2 linked regions of the Homo sapiens genome follow. The protein of the gene in region 2 interacts with the protein of the main gene of each other region in a biochemical or structural test. Each region holds a gene or a part of one and is shown on either strand. Other genes may lie near its edges.

What was found. The genes of interacting proteins can lie anywhere in the genome.
Region 1: the proteins of PTPRH (region 2) and CNKSR1 form a complex in vitro, tested with the Homo sapiens proteins (one study listed by BioGRID).

The regions. Positions count from the first base shown.
Region 1 is NC_000001.11:26,180,460-26,187,490, forward strand, and holds part of CNKSR1 (connector enhancer of kinase suppressor of ras 1), read left to right. Parts: coding exon 1-151; intron 152-255; coding exon 256-437; intron 438-1,397; coding exon 1,398-1,482; intron 1,483-1,901; coding exon 1,902-1,943; intron 1,944-2,020; coding exon 2,021-2,125; intron 2,126-2,737; coding exon 2,738-2,797; intron 2,798-2,886; coding exon 2,887-2,955; coding exon of another isoform or gene 2,956-2,976; intron 2,977-3,269; coding exon 3,270-3,371; intron 3,372-3,611; coding exon 3,612-3,682; intron 3,683-3,754; coding exon 3,755-3,828; intron 3,829-3,941; coding exon 3,942-4,048; intron 4,049-4,125; coding exon 4,126-4,153; intron 4,154-4,554; coding exon 4,555-4,727; intron 4,728-6,708; coding exon 6,709-6,782; intron 6,783-6,951; coding exon 6,952-7,023; intron 7,024-7,031. UniProt on the Homo sapiens protein: May function as an adapter protein or regulator of Ras signaling pathways.
Region 2 is NC_000019.10:55,180,747-55,185,532, forward strand, and holds the end of PTPRH (receptor-type tyrosine-protein phosphatase H isoform 1 precursor), read right to left. Parts: coding exon 4,756-4,786; intron 1,406-4,755; coding exon 1,270-1,405; intron 1,158-1,269; coding exon 1,008-1,157; 3' UTR 501-1,007; downstream 1-500. UniProt on the Homo sapiens protein: Protein phosphatase that may contribute to contact inhibition of cell growth and motility by mediating the dephosphorylation of focal adhesion-associated substrates and thus negatively regulating integrin-promoted signaling processes.

The DNA.
Region 1 (7,031 bases), on a different chromosome or scaffold from region 2:
CGACTCCCTGCAGGACTATCCCTTTGAGGACTGGCAGCTGCCTGGCAAGAACCTGCTCCAGCTCTGCCCCCAAAGCCTCGAGGCTCTGGCTGTGCGGTCTCTGGGACACCAGGAGCTCATCCTGGGCGGGGTGGAACAGCTCCAGGCCCTGGTGAGTGAATGCTGGTCACACTGGCTGCAGCTTCCACCAACCTGGGGGGTGTGATGGGGGGCTGGCTGCTGCCAGGGAGGTGACTTGCCCTCTTTCTGGCACAGAGCTCCAGGCTACAGACAGAGAACCTGCAAAGCCTGACAGAGGGACTTCTGGGGGCAACCCATGACTTCCAGAGCATAGTCCAAGGCTGCCTGGGGGACTGTGCCAAGACCCCTATTGATGTCCTCTGTGCAGCTGTGGAGCTGTTGCATGAAGCTGACGCCCTCCTCTTCTGGCTCAGCAGGTACCCGGGTTGGGGTGACGAGTGAGGGACTATTGTCATCCTTGGCCTCCTTCAGGGCGTGGGAGAGAAAAACAGATCTTGGCTCTTGTTCAGATATGGTGAGCCAGGCGTGGTGGCTTAGGTCTGTAATCCCAGCACTTTGGGAGGCCGAAGCGGGCAGATCACTTGAGGTCAGGAGTTGGAGACCAGCCTGGCCAACATGGTGAAACCCCATCTTTACCAAAAATATACAAAATTAGCCAGGTGTGGTGGTGCGCACCTGTAATCCCAGCTACTGGGGAGGCTGAGGCAGGAGAATCACTCAAACCTGGGAGGTGGAAGTTCCAGTGAGCCGAGATCATGCCACTGTACTCCAGCCTGGGCGACAGAGTGAGACTCCCTCTCAAAAAAAAAAAAAAAAAAAAAAAAGATATGGTGGAGCAGGGCAGAGGGATTAATCCACCTGTGCAGGGGCACTGGGATGCCAGAGTTCCCACCCCACCCTCCAGCTTGTAATAATCGATCTCATCAACAACCACTGAATGGAGAGCCTCCCCAACCCTGTGCACTGGCTGCTGCTTGTCCTACAGACCCCACCTCAAATGTCATCTCGGGGAAGCCTTCCCTGTTGTACACTCTCCAAGCTATACTATTAATAAATAATAAATAATAACTTATTATAAACTCATTATCCAATGTTTCATGATACTCATTACAGCCAAAGTTAAATTGATATTGATGTATGATGTCTTTACTGTCTGTTTCCCCAGTGCCTAGAACAGGGCTTGGCATGTGGTAGGCACATGACAAATAAGTCCTGTGCTAATCTCTTTAGATGTCTCAATCATCTCCTTTACTCTAAACCAAAACCCATCAGAGCAGGTATTATCCCCAAGTCTCTGAGGTGAGTAATTGGTGAGTAATTGGCTCTGAGTGGTTAAGCATAGTCCCTTAACCACTGTGCTATTCTTCCCCTGCCAGGTACCTCTTCTCCCACTTAAATGATTTCTCAGCATGCCAGGAGATCCGAGACTTGTTGGAGGAGCTGAGCCAGGTCTTGCATGAGGTAGGAGAACCAAGGGCCAGGCTTGGCCCATGCCCTAGAGACCAAGCTGGGCTAGAGCTTTTTATAACCTGTGAATCAGCCCAGGATCGAGTATGAGGATTGAGACGGGCGAGAAAGGAGGAGAGGAGGCCCTGCCACTGGGTATGGGACAATGGGGCCTGGGGTCCCCTAGCTGGCAGGGGAATTTTGACACTCAGGACAGGGAAGGAGGGGAGGGCACGTGTGGTGACTTCTGGGGGCCTGGTATCAGGGAAACGAGCCCTCTGGTTAAAACGCTGAGGCCCTGTGGTTCTGGGCAGGGGGCCAGTGTAGGGAAGGCAGGGAGGGACTGTACGGAATCCCACCCTGCCCCCAGGAGAAGGCAGTCCCCTTATGGCCCTTGCTCAGGGGAGGCCCCTGCTCTCTCATTCTACTTCCAGGATGGTCCAGCGGCTGAGAAGGAGGGCACAGTCCTGAGGATCGTGAGTCTGTGGGGTGGGAAGAGAGTGGGGGTAGGGGCGATCGGGCTCAGGCTACATAGCCCGCTCCCCTCCCCCAGTGCAGCCACGTGGCTGGGATCTGCCACAACATCCTGGTCTGCTGCCCCAAGGAGCTGCTGGAACAGAAGGCCGTGCTCGAGCAGGTGCAGCTGGACAGTCCATTGGTGAGCCCTGCCCTCCCACCTCTCACTTCTGACCCCTTGGCAGCCTTGTCTGGGCCCTGAAATAGGGTCCAGGATCCCACAGAACCCTGTGCTGCCATGGCTGGAAAGCCTTTTTTGTACAGATGCTAAAATGGAGGCCCAGAGGATTGGCCAGGGTCTCCCGTTGCTCTGCACCTCCCCAGTCCTGAGGGGCCACGCGGGTGTGGCCTCAGGTAGTGTGTTCCAGCCTTGGGATGGAGACGGGGCAGGGGCTTGGGGGCAGTTAGGAGAAAGGGAGAGGATGTGACCTTTCTTGGTTTAATCTTTGACCAGTGGGGAAGACCAGAGCCCTATCCCTGCCCTGTCCCTGCTTGTCCCTTTAGGAATGTTGCTGAGAAGCTGGTACCTCAGAAATCAGGGTCTCCAGCTTCCCTCTGGCTCTTAGCAGAGGAGAAGGCAGAGGCCCACAGGAGTAGCAAGTCCAAAGTCATACAGCAAGTCTGGGCAGGACCAGCTTGGGGTCAGCTCTTGCCACAGTTCCACCCACCATAGAGTCCTGGTGTCTGGCGGGGGTCCTGCCTATTGGCCCTGTTGCCCCCCAGCCCCCGGTGACTATAGCCTCTGCCTCTGCAGGGCCTAGAAATTCACACCACCAGCAATTGCCAGCACTTTGTGTCCCAAGTGGACACCCAGGTGAGAGCCCCACACCCTTCTCAGCCGCCCATCCCCGAGGCCTCTCACCTGCAAGCCAGGCCAACCTCAGGCCCCATTCCCCACGTCAGGTTCCCACTGACTCCCGACTGCAGATCCAGCCTGGAGACGAGGTTGTCCAGATCAACGAGCAGGTGGTGGTGCGTGAGGAGAGGGACATGGTAGGAGGTGAAGGGGTCACCGAGTGGAACCCAAGTCTGGTGGGTGGGGAGGCAACCAAGGGTTCTGACCAGGGTTGTGGGAGCTGCCTTCCAGGAGATGAGCCAGCTAAGTCTGGTGAGAGCATCCTCTGCAGAGCCCAGGTGATGGGGCCCATGGAAGCCCCCAGGAGGCTGCATGAGTGGGAGGCAGAAGTGGGAGGCTGAGAGAGAGCTCCCAGCACGAGGGTGAGAGTTGGTGGTTGCTTTAGAGCCTCCTGCCCAGGTTGATACCAGCCAGTGTTTCTGTCCCCCAGGTGGGATGGCCCCGTAAGAACATGGTGAGGGAACTGCTGCGGGAGCCAGCCGGACTCAGCTTAGTGCTGAAGAAGATCCCGATACCGGAGACCCCCCCACAGGTACCTTCCCCTGCCGCCCCCCGACCTGCCTTCAGACCCCCCCCTCCACAGGTACCTGCCCCCACCACCCCCACACCTGCCTTCAGACCCCCCCCAACAGGCACCTTCCCCTGCTGCGCCCCCCTAGCTCCCTTCAGACCCCCCCACAGGTACCTGCTCCTGCTGCTCCCCTACCCCTGTTGCCCCCCAACCTGCTTTCAGACCCCTGTCTCCATTGCTTTGTTCCTGGTTGTTCCCCAGACGCCCCCTCAGGTCCTGGACTCCCCGCACCAGAGGAGCCCATCACTGTCTCTGGCCCCACTGTCTCCCAGGTAACAGGCTCTGTCCAGGTGTGTCTTGGTGGGGAGACCGTGGGCTCATCTCATCCCCCTTGCCCTCCCCAGGGCCCCATCTGAAGACGTCTTTGCCTTTGACCTGTCTTCAAACCCCAGTCCCGGACCCAGCCCTGCCTGGACAGGTAGTCTCAAAGCTCCATGGATGCCCCGGACACGGCATCTGGGCACCCAGTTCTGACCCCAAGCCTGGGACTGGGCTCATAGACTTTCCCTCTCTCTCCTCCCTCCCTGACAGACTCTGCCTCCCTTGGCCCTGAGCCCCTGCCCATCCCCCCGGAACCCCCAGCCATACTCCCAGCAGGGGTAGCAGGGACTCCAGGGCTCCCTGAATCCCCTGACAAGGTAAGCTCAGGGGCTTAGCAAGGGGGTGGGTGGGTCTGGACCTAGATCCTTCTCTCACCCTTCTGCTGTCCTTTCAGAGTCCTGTTGGTCGGAAGAAATCAAAAGGTATGAGGTGCGCTGGACTAGGTGGGGGTTCCCCTGTTTGAGGAGCTGTTAAAAATCTTTACATGCTGGGCAAGACCACCCCCATCCTTCCCACACAGCCTCTCCTGGAAACAGCTCTGTTTCTAGGGTCAGACAGAGCTGTGCTCCCAGTCTGGGCCTCTCACCAGACTAGAGGCTAACCTGTTTGCTGTGACTGAGCAAACAGGTTAGCCTCTAGTCTTCAGTTTGCTCATCTCTAAAATAAGAAGGGTCATCCCACCTCAGAGATGACACATGTAGCATTCTGAGCAGAGTGTGGGTTCAGAGATCTCACTTGGGGATGCTTGTGGAAGGCAGGGAGTAGGTTTAGCGGGGGCACCTTGCCAGCCCCTCACTGCCCAGCTTGTGCTGTGCTGCTACAGGCCTGGCGACCCGGCTGAGCCGCCGGCGGGTGTCATGCCGTGAGCTGGGCCGGCCGGACTGTGACGGCTGGCTCCTGTTGCGAAAGGCACCGGGCGGCTTCATGGGCCCGCGCTGGCGCCGCCGCTGGTTTGTGCTCAAGGGACACACGCTCTACTGGTACCGCCAGCCCCAGGTAAGACCCCATACACAAAAACAGGTAGGCAAGTGAGTCACTTCCAGGCCTCGATTCTCATCTCTATTCTATCATCCACTCTTATTCCTGGTCCAAGGCTTTGATGTCCCCATCTGTAAAATGGGGACTTTATTCAGAGAGAAATGAGTTAATATATGTATAAAAGCAGTTTGGAAAAGGTATCATAGGAGGTATAGAGAAAAATCTTTTTTTTTTTTTTTTTGGAGACAAAGTCTCACTCTGTTGCCCAGGCCGGAGTGCAGTGGCATCATCTCGGCTCACTGCAAGCTCTACCTTCCGGGTTCACGCCATTCTCCTGCCTCAGCCTCCCGAGCAGCTGGAACTACAGGCGCCCGCCACAACGCCCAGCATATTTTTTGTGTTTTTAGTAGAGACAGGGTTTCACCGTGTTAGCCAGGATGGTCTCGATCTCCTGACCTCGTGATCCACCTGCCTCGGCCTCCCAAAGTGCTGGGATTACAGGCGTGAGCCACCACACCCGGCCCTGAAAAATCTGGGCAACATAGCAAGATGGAGTCTTGCTATGTTGCCCAGCCTTGTCTCAAACTCCTGGGCTCAAGCGTTCTGCCTGCTTCAGCCCGCCAGAATGCTGGGATTATAGGCGTGAGCCACCACATCTGGCCGAAAAATCACGTCTATTCTGCCCACTTCTCCTTATCCTTCTGATATTCTGTCCATCCGAATGATGGGCCATTCATTTACTCATTTATTCATTCAGGATTCAGGTGCCTACTGTGAACCCAGCTCTAGGCTGGGCACTATGGACACAGAGAAGAATTGGATGATTTTTGCTTCTCCAGAACTTAGAGGCTAGTAGGGGAGAGGGATGAATACACACTCAAGGACAATGTAGGGACCGTGTGCTAAGATAAAGGGAAAGCCCAAGGGATATGTGGGAGCACAGCAGAGGTGTCCAGTCCATCCTGAGGAGTCCAGATGCCCCCTGACAATGCAATACCTGGCAGTTAGTTGCATGGGAAGGGGAAAGAAAACCAGGAAGAGAAAGCAGCATTCAGAAAGCTCAGGGGTGTGAAGCAGTTTGGTTTGTGTCTACTGAAGGAACAAATGCATGAGCAAGCTCTTCTTGTTTGGTTTTTTGGTTTTTGTTTTTGAGACAGAGTCTTGCTTTGTCACCCAGGCTGGAGGGCAGTGGCATGATCTCAGCTCACTACAGCCTCAGCCTCCCAGGTTCAAGCGATCCTCCTGCCTCAGCCTCCTGAGTAGCTGGGACTACAGGCACATGCCACCATGCCTAGCTAAGTTTTTTGTTTGTTTTGTTTTGTTTGAGACGCAGTCTCGCTCTGTTGCCCAGGCTGGAGTGCAGTGGCGCAATCGCAGCTCATGGCAACCTTTTCCTCCCAGGTTCGAGCAATTCTCCTACTTCAGCCTCCCGAGTAGCTGGGATTACAGGCACCTGCCACCATGCCTGGCTAATTTTTTGTATTTTTAGTAGAGATGGGGTTTCACCATGTTGGCCAGGCTGGTCTCGAACTCCTGACCTCATGATCTGCCCGCCTCAGCCTCCCAAAGTGCTGGGATTACAGGTGTGAGCCACCACACCCGACCTAAGTTTTTAATTTTTTGTAGAAATGGGCTTTTTTCCCAGTCTGGTCTCAAACTCCTAGGCTCAAATGGTCCTCCTGCCTTGGCCTCCCAAAGTGCTGGGATTACAGGCATGAGCCACCATGCCCGGCCTTCAGGCTCCTCTTTTTTTTTTTTTTGGCTGTTTCTCTGATATCTTTGGCTCCCCTTTCCTGGCTTAGAGGCATCCTTTGGCCACATCTCCTACCCTGACCCCAGATTCCAGCCCTGAGCTCCAGAAACAGAGAGACTTGTTAGAGAGCCCAGGAGATGCCTTCTCCTCTCCACAACTCTCAGGAGCCCGAGGGGTAACTAGGAGCTGACTGGGCCTTGAGGGTATTGGGGTTCCAACCTGACCCTCATGCTGTGATCCCCCCAGGATGAGAAGGCTGAGGGCCTCATCAATGTCTCCAACTATAGTCTGGAAAGTGGACATGATCAGAAGAAGAAATAGTTAAGTCTTGGGGTGTGATGGGCTGGGGGATGGAGACAGAAAGGGAGAGGAAGGGTGATGGGGTAGCAGTGGGAGGTGTGGCAAGTGGCTGGGGCGCCCAGAATCCAGCCTCTCTGGGCTGTGGGTGGGCACGCCCAGGCTGAGTGATGCTCCTCCACTACCTGGCAGTGTGTTTCAGCTCACCCATGATGTGTACAAACCCTTCATCTTCGCTGCTGATACCCTGACAGATCTGAGCATGTGAGTGC
Region 2 (4,786 bases):
GCTGGAGACCAGCCTGGGCAACATAGCAAAATCCCGTCTCTACAAAAATGAGCCAGCGTGGTGGTGCGCACTTGTGATGGCAGCTACTCTAGAGGCTGAGGTGGGAAGATCACCTGGGCCCAGGAGGTCAAGGCTGCAGTGAGCCACTGCACTCCAGTCTGGGCAACAGAGCAAGACCATGTCTCAAAAACAAAAACAAAAACAGAACAAAACAACAACAACAACAACAGAGAAGAGTAAAAGAAAAGCTCAGAAGGCAAGTCCCCAAGCACCTAGCTCCAGCGAGCCCTGTCCATACTGCCCAGACCCTGGACACAGACGTCTGGACACTGCCTTCTCTGAGAGACTCAACCACCCAAACCTACATTTTTTCATGTGCAAATGTGTGGGTCCCTCTAGTCCCCTCCTGGACGTTCGCCTCGATCCCTAGATACCAGGAACCCATCCCTACTCCCAATCCAATATTATTTCCAGACCCAGAAATCCATGGGACAACTGTCTCTGGGGAGAACAGTGATTTAATAAATTATGGGATAGAAGGAAAAATACATGTGGATGGTGGGGTGCAGAGAGACCTTGGGCACAGGGACTCCCTCCGACCCCAGATTATAGAAGACTGATTTGGTTTCTGAAGTAAAATCAAGGCAGGATCCTTCCTGCCTTTGGTCCTCAAGTAGCCAGAACTCCAGACCCAAATTCCTTCCTGCCTCAGAATCCAGGCCCCAGCCTGTTTCTTTCTGCATCCTGGAAAGACCTAGGGAATCCAAGCTATCATCCCTCTCCTCCTTCAGGGAACCAGGAATCCAGATCCCCAGCTCCCATAGGACTCATCTGAAGCCCACCAGACCACTCTCTCCTGGGGAAACCAGAGTTTGGGATACCAGCCCCCTCCTCCCACAGCACCCAGGAGTCTGGGAGCCCAGCCCTCTGCTCTTCCAGGAATCTGGGCTCAAGTGGGTGTCCAGAGCTTGAGGATGCCTGGGCTGCCGACCCAGCCCCCTCGTCACTTAGACCTCCAACTTGTGGGCCTGGATGGCGGCCACGTTCTCGTAGATGAGGTTTTCGACATCCTCATACGGGACTTCCTTCTCGGCTGGGGCCTGGGCTGACTGTTGGAGGAACCGCAGGATGCACTGATGCAGGAATACGTACTGAGCCTGGGAAGCAGGCACGGGAGTGAGAGGCGTCCCCCCAGGTCTGAGCTGCGTGGAGCCCCAGGGTCCCTCGTCCCACTGCCTCCCGTCCTGTGTTGCTGAGGGACTGCCTCACCTCAGTCTGCACCATCAACGGCCGACTCTCTCTCATCTTCCTTACAAAGCTGAAGGGCCCAAGGAGACCCTCGGACTGCAGCTGCCGGAGCAGGACGTCCAGGGCAATGAGGGTTCCTGTGCGACCCACGCCAGCACTAGGCAGAACAAGGGAAGGGTCAGACCAAGGGGCAGGAGTGTGAGGGTCCGGGGTCATGGCTGATTGGAGGGATCTGTGTTTGAATGATGACAATAACTATGCCTGCTCACACCTGTAATCCCAGCACTTTGGGAGGCTGAGGCCGGTGGATCACCCAAGGTCAGGAGTTCCAGACCAGCCTGGCCAACCTGGCAAAACCGTCTCTTCTAAAAATGCAAAAATTAGCCGGGTATGGTGGCGCATGCCTGTAATCCCAGCTACTTGGGAGGCTGAGGCGAAGAATCGCTTGAACCCAGGAGGTGGAGGTTGCAGTGAGCCAAGATCACACCACTGCACTCCAGCCTGGGCGACAAGAGCAAAACTCCCATCTCAAAAACAACAACAACAACAACAACAAAACTGCCTGGAGTTCCTTCCATCTGTTAGGCTCTGTTCTAAGTGCCTGATGGGCCTTCTTCACTCCTCCCAAACCTAAGAAGTCGGATGTACTAGCTCCATTGTACAAATGGGGAAATGGAGGCTGAGTGAGGTGAAGTCCCATTCCCCAGGCCACTCAGCTAATAAGTGGCAGAGCCGGGGTTCAAATACAGGAAGAGGAACTCTCCAGCCAATCATTTAGTAATTCCTTTAAACACAAAAATTAGTCTTTTGTTTTGTTTGAGACAGGATCTCTCTCTGTCACGAAGGCTGAAGTGCAGTGGCATGATCTCGGCTCACTGCACCCTTGACCTCCTGGGCTCAAGTGATCCTCCTGTCTCAGCCTCCTGAGTAGCTTGGATCACAGGCATGCACCACTGCATCTGACTAACTTATTAACTTTTTAATAGAGACGGGGTCTTGCCATGTTGCCCAGGCTGGTCTCAAACTCCTGGACTCAAGTGATCCTCCCACCTCAGCCCCCCAAAGTGCTGGGATTACAGGCATGAGCTACTGTGCCCAGTGAAAAAATTAGCTATTTTAGGCTGGGCACAGTGGCTCACGCCTGTAATCCCAGCACTTTGGGAGGCTGAGGTGGGTGGATCACGAGGTCAGGAGATTGAGACCATCCTGGCCAATATGGTGAAACCCCGTCTCTACTAAAGTACCAAAAAAAAAAAAAAATTACCCGGGTGTGGTGGCGGGCGCCTGTAGTCCCAGCTACTCGAGAGGCTGAGGCAAGGGAATCACTTGAACCCGGGAGGCGGAGATTGCAGTGAGCCGAGATCACATCACTGCACTCCCAGCCTGGGCGACAGAGCAAGATTCCGTCCCCCACAAAAATAAATAAATAAATAAATTAGCTATTTTAAGCTGGGCGCACTGGCTCACGCCTGTAATCCCAGCACTTTGGGAGGCTGAAGCAGGCGGATCACCGGAGGTCAGGCGTTGGAGACCAGCCTGGCCAACATGAAGAAACCTCATCTCCACTAAAAATACCAAAATTAGCCAGGCGGGGTGGCAGGCACCTGTATTCCCAGCTACTCAAGAGGCTGAGGCAGGAGAATTGCTTGAACTTGGGAGGTGGAGGTTGCAGTGAGCGGAGATCGCACCGTTGCACTCCAGCCTGGGTGACATAGCGAGACTCTGTCTCCACAAAAAAAAATAGCTATTTGAACGTGAGCAATTTGTCACACTCACAACGCTGTGCAGCCCCCACCTCTATCTACTTGCAAAACACTTTCATCACCCCTAAAGCAGACACCACGCCCATTAGGCCGTCTCTCCCTATTGCCTGTCACCCTCCAGGGCCTGGAAGCTACTAATCTCTTCAGTGTCTCTGTTGCTTTGGCTGATCTAGATATGCTTCTGGATATGCACACTAATGGAATGATGTGATGACATCCACTCAGCTCTAAAATGGGGAGGACATTGCCGGGCACAGTGGTTCACGCCTGTAATCCCAGCACTTTGGGAGGCCGAGGTGGTCGGATCACTTGAGGTTGGGAGTTTGAGACCAGCCTGACCAACATGGAGAAACCCCGTGTCTACTAAAAATACAAAATTAGCCGGGCGTGGTGGCACATGCCTGTAATCCCAGCTACTCAGGAGGCTGAGGCAGGAGAATTGCTTGAACCCAGGAGGCAGAGGTTGCAGTGAGCCGAGATCATGCCACTGCACTCCAGCCTGGGCAACAAGAGCGAAACTCTGCCTCCAAAATAAACAAACAAATAAATAAATAAAATAAAATAAAATAAAATGGGGAGGACACCCTTTTGCCATGAGACTGTCATGAGGAGCAGTAGAACTGTGTAAATGTTCACTGTGACTGAAACCAGAGCCCCAGTCTCAGGGGCTGTTACTCTTCCTCATCTCCCTAATAGTTACCGTTAGGTGAAATCTGACCTACGGGACTTCAGCATAAATATCAGGAAAGGGTCAGGTGCGGTGGCTCACGCCTGTCATCTCAGCACTTTGGGAGGCAGAGGCAGACGGATCACGAGGTCAGGAGTTCGAGACCAGCCTGGCCAACATGGTGAAACCCCATCTCTACTAAAAATACAAAAATTAGCTGGGTGTGGTGGTGAGCAGCTGTAATCCCAGCTACTCGGGAGGCTGAGACAGGAGAATTGCTTGAACTCGGGAGGCAGAGGTTGCAGTGAGCTGAGATTGCGCCATTGCACTCCACCCTGGGCGACAGGGAGAGACTCCATCTCAAATAAAATAAAATAAAATAATAAAATAAAATAAAATAAATAAAATAAAATAAATATCAGGGAAGCAGTTGATGGGGGAGGCCCTGCACTCCAGCACAGGGAAGTGTCTCCAGTGTTTCTCAGAATCTGTGGCCACATCCCCATCCTGTGGCTTCATCCTTTCTCCCTTCTCTTCTGCATTCAACCTTCTCTGCCTTTACCTTTTCATCTTTCTTTTTTTCCTTTTTTTTTTAATCGAGACAGAGTCACCCAGGCTGGAGTGCAGTGGTGCGACCTCAGCTCACTGCAACCTCTGCCTCCCGGGTTCAAGTGATTCTCCTGCCTCAGCCTCCTGAGTAGCTGGGATTACAGGTGCCCGCCACGACACCCGGCTAATTTTTGTATGTTTAGTAGAGACAAGGTTTGTATGTTGGCCAAGCTGTTCTCAGACTCCTGAACTCAAGTGATCCACCCGCCTTGGCCTCCCAAAGTGCTAGGATTTACAGGCATGAGCCACCGCTCCTGGCCTGCCTTTTCATCTTTCGTTCCCATCTTTTCATCCTTATCCCCTTTCTTTTCTTAATCTGCTTCACGCCCCCCTTTATCTTCCACATCCACCTCCTCCTTCTCTCCCTCTTCACCTCCCCTGTACGTTCCCAGGGTCCCGTCTAACACAACTGTCTGAGCCCCAAGGGAGCGGTTCTCTCAAGGGAGAGGGTCCTGGGCTGGTCCCCACCTGCAGTGCACAATGGGTGGGCCTCCCTCCA